Regions from separate parts of the Homo sapiens genome. Here all the other regions are linked to region 1. The links come from fine-mapping of genetic effects on gene expression. A gene starts in region 1. Each other region holds a variant in brackets. All regions are shown on one strand. Distances are between the middles of the regions. Region 1 holds the start of ADAM19 (ADAM metallopeptidase domain 19). Region 2 overlaps C5orf52 (chromosome 5 open reading frame 52). Region 3 overlaps ADAM19 (ADAM metallopeptidase domain 19). Region 4 overlaps ADAM19 (ADAM metallopeptidase domain 19). Region 5 overlaps NIPAL4-DT (NIPAL4 divergent transcript). Region 6 overlaps ADAM19 (ADAM metallopeptidase domain 19).

Region 1 (5,260 bases):
CTCAGCACTTTGGAGGTCCGAGGTGGGCGGATCACCTGAAGTCAGGAGTTTGAGACTAGCCTGGCCAACAAGGTGAAACCCTGTCTCTACTAAAAATATGAAAATTAGCTGGGTGTGGTGGCGCATGCCTGTAATCCCAGCTACTCAGGAGGCTGAGGCACGAGAATCCCTTGAATCTGGGAGGCCAAGATTGCGCCAGTGCACTCCAGCCTGAGTGACAGAGCAAGACTCCATCTCAGAAATAAAAAAAAGACAAGCATCGCTCTTGCCCTGGTGGCTCTGATAAGTCTATATTATTTTAAACAAAAAGGAATTCTATAATATTTAATGGAGCATTTAATGGAATTAAATGATATCTACGATTGTAAAAAAATAGTGAAAGCAATCTAAAATCTCACCAAAAGAGGAACATAGTACATGTTAAGAAAAGGTCTCCAAAACTTGGAAATAAGGCAAGAGCAAGCAAGATGTCTTCTCAATGTTGTATCAGAGCATTGTTTAACAGACTCACCCATGGATTACTGCATTATCTAGGGGAATGTACCATTGACTTTTTATTTACCATTGATTAAAAGCTACACTCTGTGAAGTTATATAATCTATATATATCTATAGAATTCTGTCTGACAGAGATGTAAGTGATTTCAGCATAGTAAAAAGATAACCTGGCCAGGCACAATGGCTCACGCCTGTAATCCTAGCACTTTAGGAGGCCGAGGCGGGCGGATCACCTGAGGTCAGGAATTTGAGACTAGCCTGGCCAACATGGTGAAACCCCGTCTCTACTAAAAATACAAAAACTAGCCGGGTGTGGTGGCACATGCCAATAAGCCCAGCTACTCAGGAGGCTGAGGCAGGAGAATAGCTTGAACCCAGGAAGCAGAGACTGCAGTGAGCCCAGATCGTGCCACTGCATGCCAGCCTGGGCAACAGATAGAGACTCTGAAAAAAAAAAAAAGAAAGAAAAGAAGGAATGAAGGAAGGAAATTAAAAAAGAAAGATAACCAAGAATTATGGTTTGCTTCATGGGGCATCCACCATTTCTGCATCTGCCCTGGGCCACATGATTTCAACATTCTTTCTCCAATGCTTGTATCACCCCTTTCTAATGCTCCCTGAATCAGCTTTACTCTCCTGTTTGCTACCTCATTAATGAGTTGAATAAATCTTGGCCACATTTGTATGAGTCGTGTTTTTAACTTTTGAAAACTTTGTATAGAGTCATTAAAATCATGTTTTACAGAGAATTTGATGATGTGGAAAACGCTCATGGTGTGAAGTGAAAAACGCAAGACACGAAACTGTACTTATGGGTATGGTTCCAATTTTATCAATATATATCCATAGGAACACACAAAGAATGTGGAGGGGAAAAAAAACAAAATATCAACAGCAACTGTGGATTTGGGGGTTGCAGATCATTTTCTTTTACACTTTTCGTTATTTCCCAGATATTCTACAGCAAGTGTTCTCCAAGGACTCAAAACTCAGAGAAGGCGCCTGTGCTAGGAGCAGTAACTAGCTTTCCTTGTCTTTCTTCATGCTTTTCTCCTGCACTAAGCACTGACACAGGCCTGGTGCTACCCTAGAACCTCCTCTGTGCCTCAGTTTCCCCTTCGGAACAACAGCTCAAAGGGCGGTTCCTTTGAGCCCTTTGGGAGGACCGCCCGACCTCGGCCCCTGGAAGTTCCGAACTGTCGGAAGAGCTCTCAGCCTCTGGGTTTGAGGCGGCCCGGGGGTCCAGCCAGCCCACCCTCGCTCCGCCGGTGCTCGCTCTATTTGAAAACGCTGACTGTTGGTCCCCCAAGCAGCAGTCTGGAGTCAGCCCAGCCCGTCTGCAGCGGTGGAGCCAGGGCTAAGCCTTCTCCGGTCATAATGAGAGAACCCGGGCACCGCCCCCCGGGACCAAGCCTTCCGCGAAATCTGCTTATAGCCCCCGAGGGATGGAGCCGGGGAGGGGATTGGTGTCTGGGAAACTAGTCCTGAGAAACACGGACATCACCCGGCATCTTAGCTGGAAACATCGAGTCAGACCCCTTCGCTTCACAGAAGGGGAAACTGAGGACCAAAGAAGGCGGCCGTCGGGTTGGCGTGGAAAGAGAGCCCTGGTTTCCAGTGCCACCGCGGACCTCAACCCGTGGCGTGGCCTTGGGCAAGTCCTTTCCCTTTTGTGGGCCTCGGTTTCCCCATCTGTGAAATGGGTGCGTTTGACTTGGCCTTCAGTAGGGCTCCTGCCAGCTCGGGGATCCGAAGTGTGTGGCTGCAGATACCCAGCGAGCCATCCCCTAGCCAAGGCTACCACAGTCTGCCGCGGGCATTTTATGTCCTACCCCACCAGTGTGGCAGGCACCGAGCCTGGTCCCAGGAAGCCGCTCCCAGGCCACACGGGCAGGGCGCTCGGGATGCTCGGCGTTGGCGAGTGCAGCGGGCGGTAGAGAGAAAGACAGAGAGAGAGGCGGAGCGGACACGAGGGACCGTGAGAAAACGGAGGAGGATAAGCCCCGAGAACGGCGGAAAGAGAAGCCAAAAGCAGAAAAACAGAGGAAGGAGAAGGCGAGAAGGGAAGGCTAGCCAGTGAGCGGACCGGCTGTTTTCTGGCTGCGCCGGGTTTCCCCGACCTCTGCCACCTCCCAGGGCGCAGAACGTGGGAACAAAGCCCGGGCTCCCAGGCTGGGGACGGCGGGGGCGCAGGCCCCGCGGAGTTGCGGGAGGCGCAGGGGTCGCGGTCCCAGCGCTCCGGACCCGCAAGGCTACTCCCAGGTCTCCGGGCCACCCAGCCTCCATCCCCCCGCGCCTGGCCACTTACTTGTCCATCCAGGCTCCCGCGCCGCCCGCGGCCGGAGGGGCTGCAGGGCAAACGCCAGCAAGCAGAGCCGGGCGGCGCCTGCGCCCCCTGGCATGGTGGCGGCGGCCCTTAGCGCTCGGCGCTCACACGCCCTCAGCCATACCTGCCCACTGCCCGGCGGTGGAGGCGCGTCTGGAACCCCCCGGCTCGCCCCGCGCCTCCCCACCCGGCTCCCAGCCCTCTGCCGAGACGCTCCGCCTCCAGCCCCGCGGGCCTCCGCCAGGGGATGGAGGAGGGGAGGCTCCAGCCCGGAGGGGGCTGGAGGGAGGGGCCGGGGAGGAGCTGGCGAGACTCGGGGGAGCGGGGCTGGCTCAGGTGAGGGAGACCGCGGGGAAGGGAGAATCCGAGCCCCCCAGGAGGAGGGATTTGTGGTGGACGCGGCCTGTAGAGGGTCGGGGACTCGGGCTTCTAGGAGTTAAACTGGACCCCTCTCCGCACAGCGGCCCGTTTACTGTCCCGCACTGTGCCAGACGCCTTGGGTGACACTCAGAGGTGATTCACCCAGCGCCGTCCCCCGGGGGCCGCCACTCTCGGAGACAGGCTCAGAAAGAGTTAACCCAACCGCCAGGCACAAAGAACTAAGTGCTATATGGACTTCTTTTTTTTTTTTTTTTTTTTTTTTTTTTTTTTTTTTTAAGCAGGACACAAATCCAGGAGCCATTCCTTCTGCCTGGGAGGAGGGAGTGATGAAGACCAGAGGAATCCCAGAGGAGAAGCCATCTGAGATCGGGAGGAGGAGAAATGGAACATCAGGCGGAGGAAACAGCCCAGACAATCGCACTGGGACGTGAAAACCCTTGGGCTGCATGCGGGGAGAAAACCAGAATTGGGGATGGTTAGGGTTTTGGAGGGAAACACAGGGACATGTGACCAAAAATAATAATAACTACTGTTACTTATTGAGGACTTTCTATGTACTAGAATAAGAAAATCATGATAGCTAAGACTGATAAAACGCTAAGTGTCAAACGCTGTCTTCAGCACTTTACACATATTCACTTATTTAATTAATCGGAGAAAATAACTTTTATGAGCCAGGGACTCTGCATACATTATCTCTTTTCATTAGCCCAGTAATCCCATGGGGTAGGTACTAGTACTATCCCTGTTTTAGAAATGAGGAAATCAAACCTGAGAGGCTAAACCACTTGCCCAAGATTACACAGCTAATGTCAGTGCCTAGATTCAAACCCACATCCGTATAACTCCAGAGCCTGATGCAACACACCTTATTTTCCAGGTGGAGAAACTGATAATGAGAGAGAAATGACTTGCCTAAGATCCCTCAGCAAGTTTTAGCAAAGCCTCGTTGTAGAATCCCAGCCTCAAACCTCGTCCATCTGTTCCTTTTTCTGAGCCTCTTTAGTCAAACCCAGGTTGACTAGAGAAGTGCTAAGTGTTGGAGAGGGCGAGGCACTCCTGAAGATGATGGGTAGGTAGGTCTATCAAACCCTACTCATGGGCACCCATGAGGGAAATCAAATAAGTGGTTCTGGCCATTAATGTCGTTTGGGACTCCGTTAGTCTCCAGCTGCTGTAAAATTCGTATCTTTCTGTGAACCCGAAATATCTGAGATAGGTCTCAGTCAATTTAGAAGGTTAATTTTGCCAAGCTTAAGAACGTGCTCATGACACAGCCTCAGGAGGTCCCAACATGTGCCCAGGGTGGTGGGGGTGTAGCCTCCTTTTATATATTTTGGGGAGACATGAGACATCAATCAATATGTGTAGGATGTACATTGCTTCCGGTCCGGTAAGGCAAGACAACTCCAAGCTGCAGAAAGGGTGGTGCTTCCAGGTTATAAGTAGATAAGAAACAGAAGAGGTTACATTCTTTTGAGTCCTTGATCAACCTTCCACTGAATACACAATTTAGTCTAGCTCAGTGAATCTACATTTTTACATAAACAATAGGGCAGAAGAAGCAATCAGATATGCATTTGTTTCCGGTGAGCCTCAGAGGGATGGCTTTAAATTCTGTCTGTCCTTTGTCCACAAGGAATTTCCTTGTGTGAAAATTGTGAGGAAGGTATGTAGCTGTTTCTCTTTGTAGCTATCTTATTTAAGAATAGGATGGTGGCCTGGCATTGTGGCTTAGGCCTGTAATCCCAGCACTTTGGGAGGCCAAGGCGGGCAGATCACCTGAGGTCAGGAATTCGAGACCAGTCTGACCAATGTGGCGAAACCCTGTCTCTACTAAAAATACAAAAAAAATTAGCCAGGCGTGGTGGCACACCTGTAATCCCAGCTACTCAGGAGGCTGAGGCAGGAGATCGCTTAAACCTCGGAAGGGGAGGTTGCAGTGAGCCAAGATCACGCCACTGCACTCCAGCCTGGGCGACAGAGTGAGACTCTATTTCAAAAAAAAAAAAAAAAAGAAGAAAAGAATAAAATGGGGGACAGGTTTGCCTGACA
Region 2 (5,260 bases), 110 kb after region 1:
CCAGTTTAAACTCCAGTCTCCCAAGAAAGGCCAACCACCCTAGTTCTGGCAAAGGGATCTGCCCCAGGGTCACGATGACACCAGTGTGACCCGAGGAGAACTAGTAACTACAACCTACACAACTGTAGAACAATAAACAGAAACCAGCAGACAGCGGAGCATAATAAATCCTCAGCAATCCTCATATTCCTTGCCCATGCATCCCCTCTATTTGGTGAAGGAGGTCCTGATAGTCTCGTAGATGCTCAACTCAAAAAGGTGGGATCAAGCTAGCTTCCATGCTTAAGGCAAAGATTGACCTCTCGGTGCCCACATGTCTGAGGTGACATGCCGGGCCAAGTGTGCTGGGACAATGGTACCTTAGATGGAAGGCCTCAGTAATGCCACTGCCTGGCATTCCAGTGGTAAGGAGGTCAGGGGGAGGCATCAGAAGGACCTGGCTTAAGTGCTATTTCTACCACCAGTCAGTCTTGTGACCTTGTCACCTCCTTGGACCTCCATTTCCTTATCTGAAAGAATGTGGTAGTAGTAAGGGAACCTACCTCCAAGGTCTAGCATGAGGATGTAAAGTGCTGAGCCCAGGGCTCATCATTTCCAGTGGTTCTCACCATGATGGCTCCAGTAGCCTTCCAGTGGTCCCCACTCCCTGTTCTGCCTGCTCTCCAGACTACACCTGGATAGTCCCCACACTGTAGCTTTATTTGCGAAGATCCTTCATCTGGAATGTCCCTTTAGCTCTCTCTTCATCCTTCAAGGCTTATCTGTATGTCATTTCCTACATGGCATTTTTTTCTTTTTCTTTTTCTTTTTTTTTTTTTTTTGAGATGGAGTCTCACTCTATCGCCTAGGCTGGAGTGCAGTGGCGCAATCTCGGCTCACTGCAACCTCCGCCTTCCAGGTTCGAGTGATTTTCGTGCCTCAGCTTCCTGAGTAGCTAGGATTAAAGGCATGCGCCTCCACACCTGGCTAACTTTTGTATTTTTAGTAGAGAAGGGTTTTCGCCATGTTGGCCAGGCTGATCTCGAACTCCTGACCTCAGGTGATCCTCCCTTCTTGACCTTCCAAAGTGCTGGTATTACAGGCATGAGCCACCGTGCATGGCCACCAAAGTCATTTAATTCCTGGAGACCCCTAGCAGGAACACTTTCCAGCCCAGCGCTTTGTTAAGTCAGAAGTGTTACTCTGCCTATTAAAATTCTGGGCCTGGTCCAACTGCTGACTTTGAAAGTCTGCAGACCTATGAGGGCCGAGGGGACAGAGCCAGGGGCAGGCCTTGGACTGGGACCTCCTGCCTCCCTCAGTAACCTCTCTCTGGGTTTCAGCTCTCCCACTTGCTCTTCAGGAATGGTGGGGCTGGTGGGTGATTTCTGCACTTCCTTCCATTTCTCAGATCCTGAGATGTGGCACAGAGCTTTGCATACATAATGCTTCACGAATGTCTGCTGAGTGGAAGGAAACAAATCCTGCTCTGAGCAAAGCAAGAAAGTCCAGGCTTATCAAAATGATCACTCAGGGAGAGTTTAACTTGACTAATCACTTTACAAAGTGATTCCCAGTGGTATTCCTTATCCAGTCTGCTCATCCAGGAGCATTTTCAAAGCTTCTGTCACCAAGCCACTGTCATTCAAGTTGCGTCTTCCAGCTAATGGAAGTACCCCCATACAGGAGCTTTGTGCGATAGTCTTAAGTTTGGCCAGGCGCAGTGGTTCATGCCTGTAATCCAAGCACTTTGGGAGGTCCAGGTGGGAGGATCACTTGAGGCCAGGAGTTTGGGACCAACCTGGGCAACGTAGTGAGACCCTGTCTCTACAAAAAATAAAAAATAAAATGAAAAATCAGCCTGGTGTGGTGGCGCATGCCTGTACTCCCAGCTACTCGGGAAGCTGAAGTGGGAAGATTACTTGAGCCCAGAAGGTCAAAGCTGCAGTGAGCCAAGATCACACCACTGCACTTCAACCTGGGTTAGAGAGCGGAAACCCTATCTCAAAAAACAAACAAACAAAAACTCCCTATAGTTAAAAAACATTCACCTTCCACATCATCCAACACATGTTTATTTATTAATAGCTCCTTATACATACCAGGCACTCTTGTAGGTGCTGGAAATCATTAGTGAACAAAACAGACTCAAATCCTCTGCTTTCATGAAGGCACGATCCTCAGCTCACTGCAACCTCCGCCTCCTGGGTTCAAGCGATTCTCCTGCCTCAGCCTCCCAATAGCTGGGATTACAGGTACCCATCATCATGCCCAGCTTTTTTTTTTTTTTTTTTTTTTTTTTTGTATTTGTGTAGAGACAGGGTTTTACCATGTTGGCCAGGCTGGTCTTGAACTCCTGACCTCAGGTGACCTGCCCGCCTCAGCCTCCCAAAGTACTGGGATTACAGGTGTGAACAACTGCACCCAGCCAAAGCTTATATTTGAATAGTCTCGGGGTGGTGGAGAGGGGAGTAGGAAGAACAGGAATCAGATGAAACAGGAATCAGCTGCTGGAGTCTGGTGCCTCTGGCTGAAGGCAGGATGCCTCCTTTGGGCTTTATGGGGAGAATCTGGTTTGCACAGTATTTTCTCTGTACGATCCTTTGACATCTGGAAATGCTGTTCCCAAGCCTGGAAGGCTGTGTGTGTCCCTCCCTGCTTCAGTGAGGTTTCTTTTATCTGATGTGCACGATCTTTGCAGTCAAATGGCTCTGATTTGGAATCTCGGCTCTGCCTTGCAGAAAGAAGAACGTCATTTTGCCCCTTGGAGCTTCACCTTCCTCATCTGGAAACTGGGAATAATTGTAGTACCTATCTTATAGGCTTGTTCTGAGAACCCAGTTAGCTTGACAAGAACCTAGCCCAAGGCCTAGCATCTTGTAGGTGAATCGGAAGGGGGTTCTGTTGGGAATTGTAATTGTTGCGTTGTACCTGGAGTTGACACATACACTTCAAGAGGCAGCCTGGTGCTGGGGAGTGAGCCTTGGAATAAGAATCTAGAGGTGGGAGTTCAGCTTGTGTGATTCCTCAGTTTCCTCTGAGACCCTGAGCAACATACATTCCCTTTCTGAGCACTGATCTGCTCTCTTCCCTCATGTTCAGTTAATCCCCTAGGAGGAGGAAATTGGGTTGAGATAGATCCATATCCTCCAGG[G/A]GGCCTTGGAGCATCCCAAGCCAGCATGTGCCTGTTGGGAACCTGGTCAGGAGCAATGGTTGGTCACTGGGGTTCCAACCAAGCCTTCCACAGTTACTTCTGGGGGGCTGAGTGCACTCGTTCCACAAGAATGAAATGGTCACCAGGAAGAATTCTTCCTTAACTTTGTCACATTAGAGGGCTGGGAGGGCCTGATTCCCTGGAATCTGCCTTTTCAACCTGATTTCCCATACTTCTTCCCATGGGCCAGATCCCATGAATTCTCTCACTTCTCCAAACAGGCCCCTTGATTTTCCACCTTGGAACTCACTTTCTTCCTCCCTTCCTCCCTCCCTCCCTTCCTTCCTTTCTTCCTTTTGTTCTTCCTTTCTTCCATTTTTCTTCCCTCCTTTCTTTCCCCCCACCCCTCCCTCCTCCTCTCCCCTCCTCACTTCCCCCCACCCTTCCCTCCCCTCCCCTCCTCTTCCTCTCATTGCCCAGGCTGGAGTACAGTGGCATGATCATAGCTCACCACAGTCTTGAAGTCTTGGCCTCAAGTGATCCTCCCACCTCAGCCTCTTAACTAGGACTATAGGCATGTGCTACCATGCCCCACTAATTTTTTTCACTTCTTGTAGAGACAGGGGTCTCACTGTGTTGCCCAGGCTGGTCTTGAACTCCTGGCCTCAAGTGATCCTCCTGCCTGGGCCTCCCAAAGTGCTGGGAATACAGGTGTGAGCCACTATGCCTGGCCCACCTCAGAACTTTTGATTCTACTGTTCACCCTGAAAGGAATATAGATTTCCCCTCATTTCTACCTGAGGAAATTCAGCTCAGACCTTTCAGGGCCTGCCCTGACATGAGCTCTGCCTTCCAAGACTAGACTCTGTCCATCTCCCATCAGACTAGGAGTTTCCACCAGGCAGGGGTTGGACACATCAGGAAAACAGAGGCTTGGATGGATAACCCTTTCTTTGCAAATTGCATTATGCAGAACCAGCCATATTCTCTGGAGCTCTCAGGTAATTTCCATGGTGGTCCCCCCAACCCCTCATTGCTTTAGAGATTCTGCATACTTCACTAAGGAATCATTGACTCCTCTGAAAGATTTTCAGATAAAACTTGTCACTATCACTCTAAGCTGAGGTCACTAATTAATAGTCCTGGGACCAATAGCAGGGCATTGGTTTGATCAAACACTATGCTTCTCATGGTATTGAATTAAAGTACTTTGGGTGTGGTATGGAAGCTGCAGTTAGCTGCAGCTCCCACCACTGCCATCTCCCTAAACCCAAGTGCACTTAATCTCCCTGGCCCCTGAAGGTATGTGAGTTTGTGATCACTCCAAAGTGTTAGAACAGCAGTTCCTTTAAAATAACTAACAAGTTTAAAAACTTTAAAATTGTAATACAAGCACTATATATAAAATTCCATTTAAAGGGTATTCAATAAAGGAAAATTCCCCTCCTCCTCTCCAGGGCCACAGCAATAACCATTTCTGTGTGTCCTTCCAGAAATGTTCTAAGAGTATAGGCCCTTAAGATGCCCTTTATGGGCTTCATAAATTACGTGCAAAACTTTATTTTTATGTATTTATTTATTTGAGATAGAGTTTGGCTCTTGTCACTCAAAAAAAAAAAAAAATTAGCCAAGTTTGGTGGCACATGCTTGTAGTCCCGGCTACTTGGGAGGCTAAGGTGGCAGCCGTGACTGCACCACTGCACTCCAGTCTAGGTAACAGAGTGAGGTCCTATCTTTAAAAAAAAAAAAAAACAAGAAAAAAAATAGAAACAGAAAAAAAGAAGCCACCAGCCTGGCATTGCCCAGCTCAGTCAATAAAACATCCTTTTTTTTTTTTTTTTTTTTTTTTCAGGAAAAGTCATTACAAATGTTTGGCCAAGGGCAGGTCTAGCATGTCTCCCAGAAATGGGCCTGCCTTAGTATCCCTTATATACCCAGGAACTAGCTAGAAAAAGCTTGAAGGAAATCTGGTCTCAGTATAAACATGATGATGGATTTCACAGTGCAACAGTTGGGAGCCCGTAGTCAATTTTGCTTTCTGTAATTAGAGGTCTGTGGGGTGCATTCCTATGCACAGATGGCATTGTGATTCCCATTTTACAGAGTAGGCAGAATTTCAGAAAAATT
Region 3 (5,260 bases), 33 kb before region 1:
ACTCATTTGATAGGGCTGTGATGAGGATCAAACAACATAATAAATGTAGCAGACTTAATGCCATGCCTGGCACAAAGTGGAGCTGGGTAAAAGTTAGTGATAATCATTATTGCTTTCAACAGGGATTATGACAGAAGAACCCAGAAAGTTTCTCTCTCTAACTTTCCCCAGCCATGAACTCTCCAGTACATCACTTAAGAGAGGTGGTAAAACGCAATGTGCTCATTCCTGCAGCCCATTTCCTGGGTTTGCTTTCACAGACTGCGCCATGTACAGCTGGTCAGGAGTTCAGAGTTTAATAGTTCATTCCAGGTGCCAGTGGGGAAGTGTGAATTTTCCCACAGAAAATGCACTCCTGGTAAAAATATTCTCAGCCTCTTCTGAGACTTAGCAAGGGGGGAGAAATCATTCACCCAGTGACATTACCCCATCATCACAGGCCTCTCTGACCCTCAGCACTGAAAGGAACCCTAGAAATCATGTAGTCAAACCCCAATTACACTGTGAGCTCCCCAAAAACAGGGACCTTGTGTCTTTGAAGTCTTCTCCCCGGCCCCCAGCACCTAGCAAGCAGGCAGTACATGTGCATTCTGTGAATGAGTGAATAAACTCGCAAACGAATGAATGAACCTTTTATCTCGTGTAGGAATCTGCCAAATGGCTATTCACCACTGGACACCTCCAGGGAGAGGCTACTCCTGAGACTACCCACTCCATTTCTGACCACATACAGTAGTTTAATGTTTTACTCCGGATTAAAAACTACACCTCTGTCACTGGCACCCACAGGCCTTCATTCTGGCCTCTGAATCTACATAAAACAATCCGCTTTCATTTTCCACCTAATCACCCTTTCTGAAGCAGCAATATCAGCATCATCTAGAAACTAGTTAAAAATGCAAATTGCCAGGCTCCACCCAGACTCATGAATCAGACAGAAACTCTAGGGTTAGGGCCAGCCATCTGTTTGAACAACTCTGCAGCTCCCCCAAGCTAGGTCCACATACGCCCATGTGTCCAGGTGCTGCTCTCAGAACCAAAGGACGCTGCTGTCCCACAGAGAGGAGGGCACATGGTCACTGAGCAGCCCGGCCCAGCCCAGCTGCCCCATTCTCTGACCACATCTTGTTCTCATCTCCTCCCTGACGAGGGGCTGGCTCAGCAGACCGGCAGGAAGCCGTCTCTCACCATTGGATTGCATTAGGATTTTCAGGAAACGACTTGTGAGTGATGTGCATCCAGGAAGAGAAAGGACTGTGCAAGATTTCCCATTCCGCCCACTCCTTTTTTCTAGCTTTAAAAGAAAAGCAATTTCTGTTCTACCCTGCTGCCCCCTGCTCTGTCTGCTCTGTGCTCAGGAGCCCACGGACAGGCAGAAATCAGTAGGACACTCTGCCATGTCTCGGCACCATCATAATAATAGCCAGCACTAGAGTTGAGCAAAATCTGGGTCATTTAGATTCCAAAGTCCCTGAGCAAAACCTGCATCTTCAGACTCCCACCTAGGAAAATAAGCTACCCCCAAATACCGGACATAAAACATTAGGTCACTCTCTAGGGAAGAAGAACTGGAACCTGTACAAGCAGCCAGGCCCTGAAAGTACACTGCAGCCTGAAAACAGCTCAGACCCGTCTTTCCTAAGGCTCAGAAGCTTCAAACTCAGGACAATTCCTTTAAGTTCTATTTATCGTCAGACAAATTTCAAATGCCTCTCTAGGCTAAACCACCCTCTAGAGAGGAAGGAGCAGTGACACTAAAATGAATTTGCAAAACATCTTCTGGGAGCTCAAACCTTCTTCCTCCTGCTTCAGATAAGCAAACCAGTGAAGATAAAGTGATAACAATTTCCCATTTACCTTGAAAAACACCCTCTGCAGACGAGCTCAGCATAGGCGAGCATCACTCTGCTCATCTCAGTAGCAAGTTTTGCTGACACCTCCTTTCTCTGGGCCTTTCTCTATCTAATTCTTCCAAGAGTCTCCAGGCATTTATACCCTGATGATGCCTTGGGAGGTCCACTTTTCTGGTCTCTCTTATTTCACCTGGAGGGTCTTCATCCTGCCTATGTTAGTAATAATGTTCTCACCATGCGACTTAGCCCAACAACTGCACAACACCTGGAAAGACTGTTCAAAAATACACAATCCCCTCCCTTTTCTAGGGAAGGATTAAGAAATCTGTATTTTTAATAGTTTTTTTTTTTTCAGGTGATTTATGTTTTCGGGTTCTGGGAATTATTCTACTCCATTTGAGCAATTTTAACATTTTTAATTCTTTTTTTTATTTCTAGCCTCCTAATCACCTTCCAAAAGTCTAAAGATGGTGCTAACCCAGCATAGAGGGAAAGTCGGAATGCTTTGGTTTAAGCAGCAGCTGCACTAGGCAACTGCCCTTCCAAAGCCTGGAAATGAAGCAAAAGATGACTATGGTTCCTCTCAATGTCACACAAGCGTACAGCCAGGGCTGGGTGCAATGGCTCACGCCTCTAATCCCAGGACTTTGGGAGGCCGAGGCAGGTGGATCACACGAGGCCAGGAGTTCCAGACCAGCCTGGACAACAGGGCGAAAGCCCGTCTCTACAAAAAAAAATAGCCAGGTGTGGTGGCGCGCACCTGTAATCCCAGCTACTCAGGAGGCTGAGGCAGGAGAATCGCTTGAACTCGGGAGGCGGAAGCTGCAGTAAGCTGACATTGCACCACTGCACTCCAGCCTGAGTGACAGAGCCAGATTCTGTCTCAAAACATTAAATTAAAAAACACTAAGGGAGCACAGCCAAGCCTTAGACTCTCAGAGGCCTGTCTACGGTTCTCTGGACTTTATGGGAAGAGTGTGGCTTTGAAAGATGTACTATTTACAATTAATTAGGACAGCCCTTGTTCCACTCTGTAAAATCAGATGTTAACTTGTAAAAACTTAATAAGATACAACAGAAATGCAAATATTTCCATCTAGTAGAAAAGATAACCCCAAAGGTTATGATTTTACAGCCCCTAGGATATTAACTAGTTTTGTGTCTAATTTAGCAATCTTATCTCAGCATTCCTTTTTTCACTATTAAATACACACACACC[G/C]CCACACAAATACGTCTTAGTTTCCCTTATCCAATTTTAAACCAGTTTTATCATCTTGCTGGTTAGCCCATTAATTAGATAAATAAAACTTCGAGAAGTGCTCACTATGTATTTGTATAAAAATTGTTTTCACGTGAGCCACATAAACCCCCTCCATTTTCTAGACTGCAAAATGAACAGACTAATAATCACCATCAGTATCACAGCGATGCTGAGGATCAAATGAGAAAATACATTCAAATCCTAGCTCTTATAAGTCGTGTGAATTCAGACTGGTCAGTAACTTCTCCGTGCCTATGGTTTCTCATCATAAAATGAGGAGAATGACAAAATCTACTTCACAGTGCCCCTGTAAGATGTTAGAATAGTGCCTGGCATATAGGAAGATCATATGAACAAATGTGAAAGAATTATTTGTAAAGTAGAAAGTATTTGTGCTTTACAAATATTGCTATCATTTTCTCCAGCACTAGCTATATATACACGTGGCAAAATCTTGATCATTGTTAAATCTAGGTAATGGGCATCTGAGGTTTATAATACTAGTCTCTCTCCTTCTGGGTTTGTAAATTTTGACAATATTTTTTAACTGGCTAGGTGATACGGTGCAAGTCACAAACTACTCAGCCTCAGTTTCCCTTTCTATCAAGCAGAAATGGCAATGCCCAGGACAGACAGGTACTGGAAAGTGTCTCTGAAAAGCAGAGTGCTATTCTAATGTCATGGCCTGCACTAGTCTAGATTTGGGACAAAATAAATTCAGTGAGTATTGTTTTGTTTTCTAAGATGCTGAAAGAAAAGCAGGGAAGAGACAGCCAGAGCTGCTTCAGAACCAAGATTTCTACATCAGTACTCATTCCACCTCTGACTCCAAAGGAATGGAAACAAACCAACGTGCCAAAGGCATGGCCCTAAAGCCAAATAAGGGACTGATGAGTCCAGGGGGCTGCAAGCAGACACATTCCTTTATGAGGGAACAGAAAGGCGAAGGAAGGGGGAACTTTGGAGGTTGCTCCTAGAGTAAAAAATTGGGACCTCCTCCTATCCCAGGGACTCCCTTGAATAAGCACCATCGTTGCCAGAGGACCAGCTTTGGAAGCAACACTCCGAAGGCAAAAATGGCGCCATCCAGAAGCCTGGCAAAAGGCCAATGCTACTCAGTATGTTTTCTTTAACTTCCTATTAAGGAAGTTTCCAAACAATGCGTTAAGTCAACACTCCCTTTCACCAACCACTTCCCACGACATCTTCTCCCAGTCCGCACAAGACCTGGCACCCTTCCGACCAGTTTCTGGTCCTGTGTTTTGCTTTTACATTATATACCAAAGGATGTTTGGATGAGCACCACTGACTCCTTTGGCCAGCAGGGTCTTTACTTAATCCTCTTCAGGCCTCCCTCGTGGCTGCCTCTGTGAAGATGGGTAACCTCTCTGCACAAATAGAGCTGACTTCTTGAGATCAGACAACTTAACTGGCAGGGACCTGCGGGGCCCTCAAAATGGCTCACCCAAGAAGAGTTCACAAATTTGTTTTCCAGTGTCCCGAATAGCCCATTATGTGTATTTGTTGGAATTAGATAAGAACAGTTCGGGGAAATGAGGTGCTACCTTTAGAATTTCTGAGAAAAATCTAAAAGCGAAAATGGTGAGTAGGAACAACTTCTCTAGCAACCAGTTTTTGGTAAATAACCACAGTGTTGATCAGATTAGCCGATACCACAGAAAACCTGAAGGGAAAGACGAATGTAAGAGGGTATGAGGAAACTGCCATATCATAAAGAAAAACGGTGTGGATAAGACACAGGGGAAATGAAGAGAAGGACCCTCTGAGATCACTGGAGCTGTGAGAATATGCTTAGAAAAAAGGGAATAAGCGGACCACTCCCTGAAACTAACAAACAAACATAAAACAGGTAGGTGAGGACCACAAACCAGCCTGCTAAATGTAGGTGCTTAGCCCTTTTTAAGCTCTGATTAAATATCCCAGTAACTTTCATAAACTTGCCCAATGTTTCTTAGCATACTAAGACACAGACCGCACCCAAAGCATAAGTCAAGGATGTCAGAACTTGGAAAGCCCTCATAGATCATAGTGGATACCTATTGTCAGAGCCTGCCCAGCATCCATGCCACCTTCTTGAGATAAACAGTGGCCCAACTTGCATTTAAAGAAATACTCCCCTCTCGTT
Region 4 (5,260 bases), 63 kb before region 1:
TTCCCGTGGGTCCACACTTCCAAGCCCACGAGAGCAATCCGGATGTTCAAGGATCGGTAAAACTGAAAGGACACAGAAAAACCACAGTATCTGTCAATACCACCTGGGATTTAAAAGCCCCTTCCTTTCATTCTGGTGGAGCTTGAGATTAAAAAGAAAAAAACTAAAACTAAAAAATAAAAATAAATTTAAAAAAAAAGCTCCTTCCTAGCCTAAGAACTCAGAGCACAGATACCAGATTTCTCTTCTGCCCATGGCTCCAACAGAAGGAGGCAACTGGTGTTACTGACATTTTTTAGAAAGGGAAAATGAGATCCTGAGAGAGAGCAGGACATTCTGGTGGCAGAACTGCAGTGACTTTGTTTAGAGATGACTGAGATAGGACATAAAATTGCTTTCAGATATGAATAGGTCTATCATGTGGAAAAAGTTGTTCTGCATGATGTTCAAGTAGGGCTTAGGTCAATAGGTAAAACAGACAGGAACATAAATTTCATTTTAAAATAGGAAGAAGGCTTTCAAACAAAGCTGGTCATGAGATAGCTCAGAGCTGAGCTTTGCTGTCTTCTGTAATCAGTGCCCTTGGCCAGGCTGTCTGGTACAATTTTTTTCTCCCAATTCCTTATGTGAGCCTTATCTTTCTTATGGGTATCTAAAAAGTTCTCTTGTATATAGATTTTTTAAAGCCACTTCATTGAGGTATAATTTGCATACCATAATACCCATCTATTTTAAGTGTACAGCTCAATGCTTTTTGGTAAATTTACCAAGTTTTAAAGCCATCACCAGCCAAGCGTGGTGGCTCACACCTGTAATCCCAGCACTCTGGGAGGCTAAGGTGGATGGATCACATGAGGTCGGGAGTTCGAGACCAGCCTGACCAACATGGAGAAACCCCATCTCTACTAAAAATACAAAATTAGCTGGGCGTGGTGGCGCATGCCTGTAATCCCAGCTACTCAGGAGGCTGAGGCAGGAGAATCACTTGAACCCGGGAGGCAGGGGTTGCGGTGAGCCAAGATTGTGCCATTGCACTCCAGCCTGGGCCACGGGCGAAACTCCGTCTCAAAAAAAAATAAAAATAAAATAAAGCCATCGCCATCATCCAGTGTTAGAATATTTTCATCACATCGGTGAGATCCCTCATGTCTATTGATAGTCATTTCCCATTCTCACCCTCAGCCCAGGCAACCGTGCATCTACTTTGTTTCTATTCTGCCTTTTCTGGACATTTGTTTTACAATATGTGGTTTTGTGTGTCTGGCTTCTCTCACTTACCATAATGTTTTTGAGATGTATCCATGTGTTAGAGTGTATTCGTTTATGATTTCTCTTTATTGCTGAATAATATTCTTTCGTATGGATATACCAAATTATATTAATACATGGATATTTTATTATAAAATGTCTCCCACTCATTTTGGAAGTAAATGAGTATAAATGACATAAAAGTGCACAGATATGCTTACTCTTCAAATTTTCTTCCCCATCCCTGGATAGTCTCAGGTTTTGTCAAGGATGGAATAAGCAGGTTGCAAGCAATAGACTACAGACGTTCTTGGTAATCTTCAGGGTTTTGTCCAAACCAGAGATCCTGAAATTCTATACCCAAGATCTGACTCGACCTCCTCGAGGCTAGAGCTACATCTAATCTTTATGATCTGGCATTTTTCACCTCATACAAATATAAGCAGGAGGAGGGTTTTCTTTAAAGCTAAACCACTGGAAGGTGTGGATACAACGGGTTCTTTGATGGGTCCACCCTACAAATACTGAGCCAGTGACTTAATAAAAAGCCCCATGTATGGAGAGGACATAATGAGCAGGAGATACCATCTTTATCCAAAATTGGTAGGTACTGCCCCAGCTGAAAAGAATAATCATAGCACCAACATTTTTCCACCACTTTTTACGTACTAGGCACTGAGGCTTAGAGAAGTTAAGGAACTTGCCCAAAGTCTCAGCAAGAAGATGGTGGAGCCAGGATGAAGGCCCAAATTACAACCTCAGAGCCTATTTGTGACCCTTTACTACTTCAGTGCTGCAGTACCTACACATCCAGATAATCCACTCGCTCCAAGAAACGCTGGTCAAGATGGGCTCCAGATTCAGTGAAATATCAGTTTATTTCAACAGAAATTTTGATTTTTCTGTTTTGTGCCAGTTCAATCGTTACAGAAAATAAAAGGTTCAGATTCCAATTTGAATTTGCTTTACTAGGGAGCTTTTGAAGGAAGTAAACTTGGCTTTTTTTCACAGTTACAGAAAAACATTTTGGATTGGGTTCATGACTCAGCACGAGTCCAATTCATTCCAGTTTTAGTTCAACAATAGTTCAGTTCAAGTAGCTAGGTCAGCAAGCTCCAGAGAAGTGGGCGTGGCTTCCCTTACCCGCCAGGAGTGACTAACACCAGCCGCGAGGAGAGAGCCAAGACGG[C/T]TGCACAGGATGCATGGGCCACCCAGGCTTAGGGCTTTCAGTAAGGACTGGGGCTTGCTGGTGCCTCTCTTCTCCCTTCACTTGTCACCAGCGCCCTTGGTTCCATCACATACCCCACAGAGGGGATACCCAGCCAAGTCCGAACCTGCCAGGTCTCCAAACAATAGATGTCACATGGGGGAAAGCAGAGTCAGCCTCCCATATTCTCCCCAGGGAAACAAGCTTCCCTTGTTTTCCCAGATGTCAAATGTTTGGGTTGTAGGATTATTTAAATGTTATTCTTGAGTGAGTCAGGAGCTAGAGGGAGGACTGGACTGTGTCCCTAGAGTCTGTCCTTCCAGGAAATGCCAGTGTTTGACTTTCACCTGTCACTGACCACTGACCTTTGTTTCCAGAGCCATCTAGGGCAGAAAAAAACCATGGGCATGGAAACTGCCATCTGATGACTTCAGAACTAATACATTTGCCTATTAATCCCTAAAACATATTTTAAGTGATCTCCTATATTCTCTAGTGTTTAGGAAAAAATGATTTTCCCTTTAGACCTGGAATTCATGAATCCCTAGCAGGCCCAAAGTTAAGCTTCATCAATGTTATGAGTATTCTAAAATTGTGCAATAAACGTTACCAGATTCTCAAAGAGACTTTTGATCCCAAACACATGAAAAACTACTTTTAAAAACTATATACTACTAGCCTACCAAGAGGCTACTGTCATTCTAGGTTACCTATTCTGCATTTTGTACTATAACAAATATCTTCTTTCATATACACAATGTACTTCCAAGTCCCAGACCAGCCCGTTCTAGTAAAATTCAAAAATGTAGGTATTTCCGAAGAGCATCTTGTAAAAGGTCCTGACCTAGGAAAGTTAACCACTGCACATCCTTCCTAAGAGACAAGACATAATTTTAGGATAACTTTACAGATGGAGACTTTATAGATTAGCCCCAAGCAACCCACTTCTCAGACAATCCGCTTCTCAAGCAACCCACTTCTCAAACAGCCCACTTCTCAACTTTTAAGGCTGTGTGTCTTTCCCACCCTGACCTACCTCAATTCCCTCCTAAGTCAGAGAATCCCTGGGCTTTGTATCTGGAAGGAACCTTAAAGAACCTTAAAGGATTCTTAAACTGGGCTCTTCCATGCCCCAAGCTGCTCGGGAGCCACTGCAGGGGTAAGAGGAAGGGGTCAGAAGGACAGTGTTCTGGGTCCTCACCCCAGCTCCCACTTAGAGCAGTCTGTTTTCATCTAACTTTTATAGTAGATATTGGCATAAGATTTCATTTTTTAAAATTCCACCAGGAAAATAAAAATAACAAAAAAAAACCACACATTGATTTACGACAGCCTTTCTATTTATAAGCTGAAAACAGAACAAAAGAAAAAAAAATGCAACACAAAGAAAATGAGTTACTTGCCTAAGGGTACGTAGTTCAGGGCTCTGTCATGACCGCCCTGGGCCTCTATGGCACTGCTCATTCCCTTTCAGAAGATGGCTGGGGCAGCCAATCCAGCAGAAGGCAGCTCCAGTGCCCTTGGAAGTGCTGGCACCTGGCACCTTTCCCACAAAGTACACACCTGGTCTCACCTTATCAACATAGTTGGCGATCTCTATGAGCTTGTGTTTGGTGGCGTCCTGGTCTCGTCGATTCTTCTGAAACTAAATGGGACAAGCAGAACCATGTGAGATCCCAGAACCTCTCACAGGATGCTTCCTGCGCCCCATTACTTGTCTTTGAATTTGCTCTTATTTTCTTCTGTCTTCTATGAGCCATCATTTTTATGCAATTGTCTTCCCCACCACAGTAAGAGCTTTGGAGGGTAGGACCTGTCAACATCCATCTTCATATCCACAGCTACTAGCTCAGCGCAGCACACACAGTAGGCATGCAATAATTATGCACGGAGTAGAATTGCCTTCCTCTAACCCTTGAAGCACATCTTATTCTCCTGTCCTTCGAATTACATGGCCTCTGGCAAACTCCCACTGGGGCTTAGGAGGACTGATCCAATCCTCACCGTGGTCATCACCCCAACATGAAGCCACCATTACACAGATCTCACGAGGCTTCCCTACATGTGGTCAATCAACAATCATCGAATTGCTGCTGAATGCCTGCTATGGGCAAGGCATTGTGCTTAGCACTATGTAGGACACAAAGAAGTGTGAGATCTTGGTTCTAGCCTAGAGGAGCTTCAATTAAAACAGAGAGGGCCAGAAATAACTGTGGCAGATGCTGAGTGACAGACCCTGTACTTAAGGAGTATAGAACTGAAATGGTTGAGAAAACCTGCCGGGAAAACGTGCACAGAAATAACCACAGTGGGAGGTCATGTGAATGACATGAGTGCCAACGAGGAGGACCATAAGACACTGGCAAATAGGCTTCATCTTGCACACCACTCAGATCCACTGGCAGTGCCTTCTACAGTGAGAAGAATGAGAAGAATTATGAGACTGCATCGATTCAATCACATTTCTTTCTTTTTTTTTTTTTTTTGAGACAGAGTCTCGCTCTTGTTGCCCAGGCTGGAGTGCAGTGGCGTGATCTCGGCTTACAACCTCCGCCTCCCGGGTTCAAGCGATTCTCCTGCCTCAGCCTCCTGAGTAGCTGGGATTACAGGTGCTCGCCACCATGGCCAGCTAATTTTTGTATTTTTAGTAATGATGGGGTTTCACCATGTTGGTCAGGCTTGTCTCAAACTCCTGACCTCAAGTGATCCATCTGCCTTGGCCTCCCAAAGTGCTGGGATTACAGGCGTGAGCCACTGCGCCTGGCCGTAATCAGACATTTCTAACCAAGCACAGGAAAGAAAGCT
Region 5 (5,260 bases), 120 kb before region 1:
TTCTTCATTTCCATTGGGTATATTGGGAAGATAGGCCCAAATGGAAAGGAACTGCCACAGGTCCCAGTGTGTTAGTGACAGAACAGGGACCGGAACTGATATCTCCTGTCTGTTTTTATACCAGCCTGTCAAACAGCAGAGTCTGAGATGGTTGTTTGTTTGTTTGTTTGTTTGTTTGTTTGTTTTTAACTGAAAGGGAAAACAGAGCCTAAGTTTGTTGTTCATGTTCAAGTTAACTTTAGAATCAGTCTTCCCTCTGGCCACATTCAAAGCTCACTGTGTTCCCACCCTCCCTGTTCCCGTATACCAAATGCTGTAGGTCCACACAGGCCCAGGGGACGATCGTTAACTACAGTCCTCCTCAATCCTCCACCGGGAGATTTCTGCCCTTACGGTTGCCAGTGAGAAGCAAACGTCAGGAAACAAGGAAGACAGAGTGGCAGGTGCTTTGGGAACCTGCTTGAATCCCAGCTTAGCTACTTATTCTCTGTGTGAACCTGAGCAAGTCACTTCACCTCACAAAGTCTCACTGCCATCGGCTGTAAAATTTGGGTAACTTTATGAAGTTACCATGAAGGTATCCTAACATGGGGTTGCTGTAAGGCTCAGAGGCAATACACATAAAGAACCTGCAACATGGAAGTTGGGCAACAAGTAATAGTTCATATCAATATTATTGTTTTAACTATAGCTGGTTTTCGACAAGATCTGAAGTTCTTATACATACTTTAAGTGCATTAGGCTCTGTGCACACCCACATCAAGGCCAAGCAATGCTGCACTTCCACATACATGCGTTGACGTGAGCCCTGCCTTCTACAGTAATTTGACAGTCTTCCACCTGCAGGCAGATGTTCTGATGGGAGAATCCCATAGATGCAGTTGGATCAGCCTGAGAAGAAACTGGCTCTAGAATTAGTCTGCTGGGTTTTGTTATGGCTCCACTATTTAATAGAAGACAAGTTTCTCAACCTCCCTGAGCCTCAGTTTTCTTATCTCTAAAATGGGAATAATAGCAGTCCCTAATTCTTAGGCTTGTTTTGAGGATTAAATGGGATAATACCCGTGAAAACCTTAGTGCATTGGCTTATCTTTTAAAAGTGGCCAAAAACTATTAACTCATGACTTGTCCTAAAGTCTGTCCTTTCTTAGAAAGAAAGCAAAGAAACAGGCCAGGTGCGGTGGCTCATGCCTGTAATCCTAGCACTTTGGGAGGCCGAGGCAGGTGGATCACTTGAGGTCAGGAATTTGAGACCAGCCTGGCCAACATAGTGAAACCCTGTCTCTACTAAAAGTATAAAAATTAGCTGGGCATGGTGGCACACACCTGTAATCCCAGCTACTCTGGAGGCTGAGGTGAGAGAATTGCTTGAGCCTGGGTGTTGGAGGTTGCAGTGAGCTGAGATCACGCCACTGCACTCTAGCCTGGGTGATAGAGTGAGACCCTGTCTCCAAAAAAAGAAAAAAGAAAGAAAGCAAAGAGAGAGATAAAAGTGCTGGGTTGGGATTCCAGTGACTTTGAGTCAAGTACTGATTCTGCCACAAATTAGCTGAGTGGTGTTGGACATAACCTTGCCCCTCTCTGTATCTCAGTTTCCCCACAACTTCAAACAAAGGGGGTTGGATTAGGTGAGCCTCTTCAACTCTGACTCTGGCTAAGGGCCGACGAGAAGGTTATATAGTTGCCCCATGTTGTGTCTGGCTGGCCCCAGTCTTCCCATACAGAGGAGGGTCAGGAAGGGGACTAATCTTCAAACCAGTGGCCTCATCAAACCAGTGCCTTAGTTAAAGGAACTGCTGTGGGAATGCACAATCCCAGTTTGAAATTCTCTGTCACTGTGTGTGACCTTATGAAAGTCACTTCACGTCTCTGAGCCTCAGTTTCTTCATCTGTAGGATGGGATTTAAAGTGGTACCAGAGTAAGGAATTGTAAGAGCACATGAGGTAATATCTGCTAAGTGCTTAGCACACAGAACTCGGTAGAGTGGTGGGTTAGTAATCATTATCGATGCCAGTGGATCCCATCGTTAGGCATGGTGCTCTTCTTAGAACCAGAGCAAAAATACACTTGTCCATTCCAAGCCTTATTTCTGACGTCAGCAAAGCTATTTATGAGGACAGCAGCCATCCCAGGGACACACCTGAAAAGGGGTGGGCCAGCCTCTGCATGCTGACCATCCAGATTCCATGACTCCCTGTCAGCCTGAAGGAGGTGACAACCATCTGTCTTTCCCCACCCTACCCAGAAGACCAGCTCAGCAGGGCTGGGAAGGACTTCAGACTATATCTTGCGCGGTCCTCTTATCCAGGTTGGATGTAAGGAGAAGAGGTGAGACCTATCCAGGTCTCACTAGACCTAGGACTGCACGACAGTATGTGTAGTATTAAAAGAAGTATTTGGGTTTGATTCTTAGTTTCTCAACTTGCAGGCTAAGAGTCCTCACAGGACTTCAGTTTCCTCATCTGGAAAACAGGCTTAACAACAAAGTCTCTTACTAGGGTTGTTGCAAAGATTAAATGAAGATTAAACATAATGTGAGCCGCAGACGTAATGTCTCTCCTCTCTATTCCTGCTGTAGTGCTCTTTGACCATAGCACACTGGAAAGACGCAATGCACTGATTTCTGGATTTCCTTTCCATTGTGAAGCTGTATGGAGCAGCAGAGTTGTTCTGGAGTGCTATTGTGCCGAACTCCTATTCACCTCAATAGGGAAGGCACCAGGTTCAAGGGGCTGAAGAAGAGACCCAGAGCCAGCAAATGAGAGGTGGGGTTTGATTGGCAGCTTACATACAGGGAAGAAAGTCCAGTGGTGGTGAGCTGGACAGGAAAACCCGCCCACTGACAACAGGCTAGGACAGGTAAGGACACCACATCATCTTTACCTACAGAAAAGGTCCACTGGTGACAGGCTAGACACGATGTCCTCTTTACCTACAGTCCGGCCGCGGTGGGCTGGACAAGATAACCCAGTGGCGAAGGGCTGGGCAGGAAAACCACAACCACTTGCAAACCACATGCAGTTTATATTCCATCTTCACTTAACACCCTCCCCTTAACGACCTCCACCTGGCAACCTTCATCCAACTCAAACCTCAGGGCTTGGATCTTCTGTACAGCCCATATTCCATGGGA[T/C]AGGCAAGGGGCTCAGATGTTCCTCATAGACAAGAAACGAGTCTCCAGGTTGGCTACTCCCAGATTCCCGAGCTTAGAACAGACATTCAGGTGTGTCTTCTGTACAGGCTCATTGTAAGCGTATGCTTAAGTTATTGCTACCAGGTGCATTTATCCTACAGGTGCCAGTCTGAAAACCTGACTGGGGCCCGGACTGCCTCTCTGTTGCTCTGTGACCTTCTGTTGGTCACTTTCCCTCTCTGGCACTCAGTTTCTTCCATTAACAGCACTGCCCAAAAGAAACATAACATGAGCTACATATGTAATTTTAAACAGTTTAGTAGCCACTTTATAAAGAGTGAAAAGAATAGGAAAAATAATTTAATAATGTTTTTACTTAGCCCAATGCATCCAAAATATTATCATTTTAACATGTAATCAATATTTAAAAATCATTAATGAGATTTTCCTTTTTTTTCCTTACTAAGTTTTTGAAATCTGAGTGGTTCTCAACCCAGAGTGATTTTGGCAATTGTCTGGGGGTGTTTTTGATTGTCAAAACTGGGGTGGGTGTCGGGGTGCAGGGGTGTGTGTGCCGCTGGCATCCAGAGGGTAGAGGCCAGGGGTGCTGCTAAACATTCTACGAGCACAGGACAGCCTCCAGCAACAAAGAACGATCTAGTCCAAAATGCTAACTGAGCCTGTTTTCTACTTATAGCACATCACGATTCAGATTAGCGGCTCATCAAGTTCTCAAAAGCCACATGCAGCTGGTAGCTGCCATATTGGACGGCACAGCTCTGTAACCTAAAACATCTGGACATGCACTTGGAAAAGTCAAGTTTTTAAAAACTTGGGTTTTGGTGAATTTGTTTTCCTACTCATCCCAGAATAACTGACCGAAAGAGCTGCGGCTGGGTCACCAGTCGCTGGCTGGCTAAGGGCAGAACCCATCTGTCCCTGGCTTGTTAGACCCTTCGTAAGCCACCCACCCTCCTCAGGGAGACTGAGCCTGGAACAGACAGTGAACCCTGTTGTTCTTTTCTGGGGAGACAAAGCTGCAGGCCCTGCTACCTGCCTGACAGGGCCATTGTGGCTAGAGGAGAAAAGGGCTTTGTCAGGAAGCAGCCGAGAAGACTGCAGTTCAATGGGGCCCTTTATGTCTACACTGGCAAGATGCTCTGATGCCAGCCCTGTTGAGGCCCAGCCCCCTTTTAGAACAGATGGGGAGCCTGAGGCCCAGTGAGGTTGTGAAAGTCCCTGCAGTGGATCCTAGCCTCCTTCCCCTCATGCCACTGCCCTAAAACATGAGATTCTCCTGACTCTGAAAAGGCCGGTCTTGAAGCATAGGATAAACTCAATATTGCCCTTAACCCCTGACAAGGAGGCCCCTTCCCTGACCCTAAAATTTAGAGGTTCCACAAATCACAAACACATACAAAAATAAATGCATTAAAGAACATATATGTGCATCTGTCTCTCAGGATCTGGGCTTAGCTCTGGCAACTACAATCTGAAACATCCTCTCTTGTGATTCAAAAAGGCCACTAAGAGAAGCCACTATTTAAAGTGTTCTCAACATACACGCATGTATGCACACACACGCACAATATAACTAAGTGAGGTGATAGATGTATTAATTAGCTTAATCGTCGTTATCATTCACGATGTACACCTATATCAAATCATTATGTTGTACATTTTAAATATATATAACTTTCATTTGTCAGTCATACTTCAATAAAGCGAGGAAGAAAAAAGGTCAGACCAGAGGGAAATACTCCGAATCTCTCACCCTATGTTCTTGGAATAAAAGCAGTCAAGTTTGAATGCAGTGAGGGTTTGAGGACTGTACCACTCCAGGTTCAGTGCTGACTCCGTTTTATAGCACAAGGAGGAGCTGAACAGCAGAAATGCTTAGAGAAGAGAAAGATAAGTTGAATTCTCTTGTCAAATTCTCCCTTGCAGGTAGCATGGATGCATATATTTTTTCATCATGAAGTCTCACTTCCGAATAGGGCCAATCATCTAGTGTCTTGCTGCTCTGTGTTCAAATTCATATAGTCTTGGAGGTGTTCCCCTCTACCTGAACGGTGGTACCACACACCTCCAAAGTTAGAGGCGGGCCTGGGCACACTCACCTGCAG
Region 6 (5,260 bases), 88 kb before region 1:
TTTAAGGGGAAGCCAACTGCATAGAAGGGAGTTCCAGTGCCTGCTCCCCTTGACTTCCTTCCCTTCTCGAGAGGGTCACTACCACGTATTAAAGTGGACAAAAGGCAAGCACATAGAGAGGGCAGGAATAACACAAAGAGCCGAGATTTTCCCCAAGAAGCTTCATGGAATCAGAAACTAAAGCAAATTCTTAAGGCCAAAAAGCCATGTTCTTCAGCTCTATCTAGAAGGACAATACAACCCGCCCCCTTCACCACCACCTTCCCCAGCTCAGAATAGCTGCCAAGTTGCAATGGTTGCTGGAAGCCAGGATAGAGACCTTCTGGGGCAGGTGACAGCTGGGTGCAGATGTCAGGTTGCAACTGGGAAAGGCTGTGCTCCCAAGGGAGCTGTGCAAATGAGCCACTGAGGGGCTGGAGTTTGGGCAGGAGCCTCATCAGCATGTCAGCACTGGGCCTCCCAGGGCAACCAGCCACAGGCCACATCTGCGATGATCCAACTCAGCCCTACCAGGGCCCTCGCCCAGCACTGTTTTCCTTTTTCTAGAGCAGAAACAGTCCCTCAGCTACTCTGGCCCATGCTCCCTTCCACAAGGGATGGCATCTTACTCAATCAGATTGCACAAGCCTGACACGGGGCGTCATCCCCTGCCAAGCAATGGATCTTCAACTCGTTATCTATTTTCTCTTCTGCACATTTCTCATCAGCTTCACTTCATCAGCCCTGCCTACTCCCTGCTCCAAGCTTTTACCATCTTTCTTCAGGACAACCTTTAAATCTTCTAACTAGGACACCCATTTGCTTCTAGAGTGACTTTCATTTTTTAAAACTATTTTAAAAATTCAAATATAATACACACAGAAAAAGGCGAACAAATCATAAATATACAACTAGATGAATTATCACAACGTGAATACACTAAGTAATCCCCATGCAGGTCAAACAGTAGATTAACAGCTTCAGAAGCATCTATGGGCCCCTTGCAGGAACTACACCTCTCTCCTGCCTAAAGATATCCCAAAGAGTGATCAATCCTTGTCAACAGAAAATTGCATCATGTCACCACTGTCCTCTTCCTATGGAATACAGACCAAAGTCCTGACCAAGGCTATGTGGCCTGGGCATAGACGGGCTCCTCCTGGCTTTCCAGCCTCATCTCATAGCTCCTTGGGACCCAAGCACACAAACCTTTAAGTTCCTTCAATCCACAGGGCCCTCTCCCATGACAGAGCCTCCCTACTAGTGGGTCCTGGGACCAGGAAAGCTCCTTCATCACTTGCCCTCACAGCCTGGTTAAGTCCTGTTCCTCCTTCATGTCTCAGCTCAAATGTCACCACCTCAGGGAAACCTTCCTGGATTTCCCAGATTAGGTCAAATCCTCGTTACTCTCTTCTGAGCACCCTGAGCCTCTCCTTCACAGCACATATCACTGTTGCAGTGACACATATCCCAGAGTCACTGCCCCAGCAGAATGTGAGCTCCTGGAGGCAAAGCTGCCATCTGCCTTCCTCGTCATTGCCTGGCCCAGAGTGCAGGTGCATAAGCCGGTTTAGAATAGCAGAACTGAAGAAGTGATGAGGTTTCATCTATCACTTCTCCAGGGGGTCCATGTCCCCCAGCTAGGAGGTGGGGAATCTTTGATGGCAGACTGGAGACTGTGAGTGGCCCCAGGGCAGGAGGCTGTCTCACTCAGCTGGATGAGACCTGGGTTCAAGTCCTAGCTCCTCCACTCACAACTGTGCAATGTCGGGCAAGTCCCTTCAATCCTATGAGGCCTGGCAACCTCCAAGAGAAATGAGGGCTGCAGCAACTCCCTTCTTGGAATGGCTGTGAGGAGGCAGGTGGCAGCCCAATGTCATCACAGCAGCCCCCACTCAGAGCAGCTGCCTCCCACTGTTCGCTTGTAGAGAGACACCCACCTGGGACCCGGGGCCCAGGAGAAGCTGTGCTTGGGGGCTGTGTTTTGGGGTGCCTGCCACTGGCTGGGCAGCTTCCTGCACCCGGGACTCCTGCCAGCAGTCCCAGGGGTGCAGGTGCAGGGTATGCACAGCCTCCACCACTTAACAGACAGCTGGGTCCCCGCTGTCCCTGACACTTCCTGACCTACGGCTCAGCACCTAGGGGTGACAGGGGTGAGGCTGGCCCCGTGTTCTCTGAACATGCCTCTAGTGTGGGTTTTTCAGAACAACAGTCTGAGTGGACTGCTC[G/A]CCCGACCCACTCCCTCCTCCCTCTGCTGGCACTCCTGTTCTCCTGTAACCCCAAGTCTCTACACGCCTGCTTTCTCCCTTTCTTTCATCTCTCTGTTAGGGACTGAACTGTGCACTCATCATTTAAAAAAAAAAAATCATATGCTGAAGCCCTAACCCTGAGTACCTCAGAATGTGACCATATTTAGAGATAAGGTCTTTAAAGAGGTGATTAGGATAGAATGAGGCCACCTAATCCAATCTGGTGTCCTCATAAGAAGAGGAGAGTTGGACAGGCAGACACCAGGGAGGCAGAAGTGCATAGGAAAGGCCTCGTGAGAACACAGCAAGAGGGCGGCCACCTGCAAGCCACAGAGAGAGGCTTCAGAAATCAACCCTTCCAGCACCTTGACCTTGGACTCTTAGCCTCTAGAACTGTGAGAAAATAAGTGTCTGTTTTGAAGCCACCCAGTGTGCAGTACTCTGCTATAGCACCCTCAGCACACGAGTACACTCTCCACCTCTCTCTCTCCACTCCTCCCCTCTCTTGCTTTTTTCCTTTCCTCTTTCCTTCTCTCTCCCTGTCAATCTTTCCTCTCTTTCTGCATGGATTTTTCCATCCTACCTCTGCCCCACATAAAAGGAAGGGGAGAGCAGCAGTTTCACAGCAGAGAAACAGAATGGATGCCCTCAGCCTTCCCAAACTGTACCACTGCCACACATCCCAAGGACCCTCCAAAGCCTGCAGCCAACCCCAGAGTCCTTAGGGTCAGAGACAGCTTGGGTTCCATGGAGCCCTCTGGATTACACCCAGAGAAAGCAGTCTCAGTTGAGGGGTCACACCCAAAACACACAGGCCAGTTCCAGAAGGCACCCCACCCGGCCGCCACCCAGGAAACACCTGTGTCTGCACTGGGGGATCTCCTGCAGAAGGTGTGGTCAGAGCCATCAGAGCACACACACGCAGTGGGAACAGGCTGCTGGGCAGGCTATGCCTCCAAGAGCACCAGGGCTGGTGGGGGAGAGTCTAGACCCCACTCTCACCTCCCAGAGGCACCTGCCCCTTGGGATGGGCAAGGCATCAGGATACATCCCTAAGACTTTCCAATCAGTAGAAGGTACCAATAGGTACAATTTGGTAGGAAGAGTACTATGATGAGAGAAGTACAGTCCCATCAACCTCAGAATTGAGGAATCAGGATAGACTTCCTGGGAGAAGCGGCATCTAGGAGCAGATCTGAGGATGAGCAGGAGGTGGCCCCACCAAGGAGAGAAGGAGCGTATCAGGCAGAACAAGCAGCATTTACAAAGACCTAGCAGGCAGACGAGCATGGGGGAACTGACAGAAGTTAATATGGGGTGGAAGGTGGGTAGTGGCTTGTCATAAAATAGGCCAACCCGGGAGAAAATGCCACATGGTTTAGGAGCTTCTTAGAGAGTCTATTTCCCCACGTTCGTTGCTCTAACCTGCTGTGCGCCCCCGTATTGACTGAATTGCAGAAAAGGCAGTCAGCTCATGACCCCACAAGTTTCACCTTCCCCACCTTTGCCATTACCCATTGAAAGTGGCCTTAAAAGCAATGTTCCCAGCCCAAGGTTGCTGATTATCCACTTACCTGGGAAACGATGCAATTTGGTGCGGGGGGAATTGGCCGGCTTGGAGGAGGCCTCCTGGACGACTCCGTCCTCTCTATTTGAGACCCGGGCCCTGGGGAGTTCCTAGCAGCCCTGCTCAGGTGAGCTGGCAGTGGTGCAGGTGGGGACCCACCACGCAGATAATCTGGAGGGGGCCGGGGAGGAGGCTGGGAGGGCTTCCGCAGGATTTCCGGAGTGTTGATCACCTGTACGCACAAGTCAAGGAACACCTGAGACAAGAAATCACTCAGGGCTGGCCTTGTGTGTCTCTTTGAGATAAACCAGAGCCCAAAGGGAGAACAGACACACCAATCTATTAAACCCCTGAGGATCCCAGAAGTCAGATGCAACCTTTAAAGTCATTAGGGGATGTCAGAACCAAATAACATGTCTCTCCAGCCAATAAAAGGGCTTTTATTACCAATCCCATGGGCCCACAGAGGCTCTTAGAAAAACACAGCATGGCGGCCGGGCATGGTGGCTCATGCCTGTAATCCCAGCATTTTGGGAGGCCGAGGCGGGTGGATCACGAGGTCAGGAGATGGAGACCATCCTGGCTAACACGGTGAAACCCCGTCTCTATTAAAAATACAAAAATTAGCCAGGCATGGTGGTGGGCACCTGTAGTCCCAGCTAATTGGGAGGCTGAGGCAGGAGAATGGCGTGAACCCTGGAGGCGGAGCTTGCAGTGAGCTGAGATGGCGCCACTGTACTCCAGCCTGGGCGACAGGGCAAGACTCCATCTCAAAAAGAAAAATACAGCATGGCCCTGAGGGATAAAGGAAAAGTAGCAAAGTTCAGTGGTGCAAAGCTCTTACCTTTCGCTTGCCCTGGGGCGTCTGCAGCTTGAAAGTTGGGTTGGCATGACCAGTCCCGCTGTTCTGAGAAACCCTGAAGGGACAACTAGAAACAAGAAATGGGGGAGGAAAAGAAAGGGGACGATGTTCAGCAGGGGACAGTGCCTGAGTTCCCTTTGACCCAAGCACGGCCAGCAAGCAGCTAAATCTTTCCCAAGTCTGCTCTGGAGGGAGTGGGATTGGTCTTCTCGAACCACATCTTCCTAAGTAGAAAAACGTGTGGCCAATGGAGAACTCTCAAGGAAACAGAGTTGGCCTTATACAAAGCAGAGCTCTCTCAGCACCTTCTCTTCACCCTTTTAAGACCCTTCCCCTGTGAGGAGACACAAGGGTGTCACGAGCCATCAACCAATCCCCATCAGGCATAGATCCAGAAAGACCTGGGACTTAAAATCCCCTCCAGAACAAGTGTTATTTAATAGGTGACTCAGAGACTGTACATCTTCCATATCCAAAATAATACATCACTTTTCAAATGGGACACCAAAAGCGAGCAGGAGTAGCTATTCTTATACCAGATGAAACAAACTTTAAAGCAACAGTGGTTAAAAAGACAAAGAGGGGGCTGGGCATGGTGGCTCA

What was found.
Region 2: its variant is fine-mapped to the expression of ADAM19 in whole blood (INTERVAL, PIP above 0.99).
Region 3: its variant is fine-mapped to the expression of ADAM19 in whole blood (INTERVAL, PIP above 0.99).
Region 4: its variant is fine-mapped to the expression of ADAM19 in whole blood (TOPMed, PIP above 0.99).
Region 5: its variant is fine-mapped to the expression of ADAM19 in whole blood (TOPMed, PIP above 0.99).
Region 6: its variant is fine-mapped to the expression of ADAM19 in whole blood (TOPMed, PIP 0.99).

The regions. Positions count from the first base shown.
Region 1 is chr5:157,572,797-157,578,056 of GRCh38, forward strand. It overlaps ADAM19 (ADAM metallopeptidase domain 19), which reads right to left and starts at 2,979. Exons shown (of 23, transcript NM_033274.5): 1 at 2,807-2,979. The coding sequence starts at 2,900. LOC124901121 (a long non-coding RNA gene) reads left to right here and starts at 2,183. Exons shown (of 2, transcript XR_007059018.1): 1 at 2,183-2,574; 2 at 3,484-3,814. RefSeq lists enhancers at 1,675-2,204, 2,441-2,520, 4,378-4,993, 4,994-5,260 and a silencer at 2,691-3,130.
Region 2 is chr5:157,679,991-157,685,250 of GRCh38, forward strand. C5orf52 (chromosome 5 open reading frame 52) reads left to right here. Exons shown (of 3, transcript NM_001145132.2): 3 at 1-168. The coding sequence ends at 9. Among named protein-coding and RNA genes, the nearest start is that of C5orf52, 11 kb to the left of the region's middle. The variant G/A (reference allele first, on the strand shown) is at 3,134.
Region 3 is chr5:157,540,067-157,545,326 of GRCh38, forward strand. All of the region lies in intron 3 of ADAM19 (ADAM metallopeptidase domain 19), which reads right to left. Among named protein-coding and RNA genes, the nearest start is that of ADAM19, 33 kb to the right of the region's middle. RefSeq lists enhancers at 711-830, 971-1,070, 1,481-1,540, 1,701-1,810. The variant G/C (reference allele first, on the strand shown) is at 3,073.
Region 4 is chr5:157,509,406-157,514,665 of GRCh38, forward strand. It overlaps ADAM19 (ADAM metallopeptidase domain 19), which reads right to left. Exons shown (of 23, transcript NM_033274.5): 8 at 4,029-4,100; 9 at 1-62. Among named protein-coding and RNA genes, the nearest start is that of NIPAL4, 52 kb to the left of the region's middle. The variant C/T (reference allele first, on the strand shown) is at 2,438.
Region 5 is chr5:157,452,303-157,457,562 of GRCh38, forward strand. The region is part of intron 1 of NIPAL4-DT (NIPAL4 divergent transcript); the gene reads right to left. Among named protein-coding and RNA genes, the nearest start is that of NIPAL4-DT, 5.2 kb to the right of the region's middle. The variant T/C (reference allele first, on the strand shown) is at 3,135.
Region 6 is chr5:157,484,463-157,489,722 of GRCh38, forward strand. It overlaps ADAM19 (ADAM metallopeptidase domain 19), which reads right to left. Exons shown (of 23, transcript NM_033274.5): 20 at 4,640-4,724; 21 at 3,803-4,027. Among named protein-coding and RNA genes, the nearest start is that of NIPAL4, 27 kb to the left of the region's middle. RefSeq lists an enhancer at 1,999-2,499 and a silencer at 2,167-2,256. The variant G/A (reference allele first, on the strand shown) is at 2,208.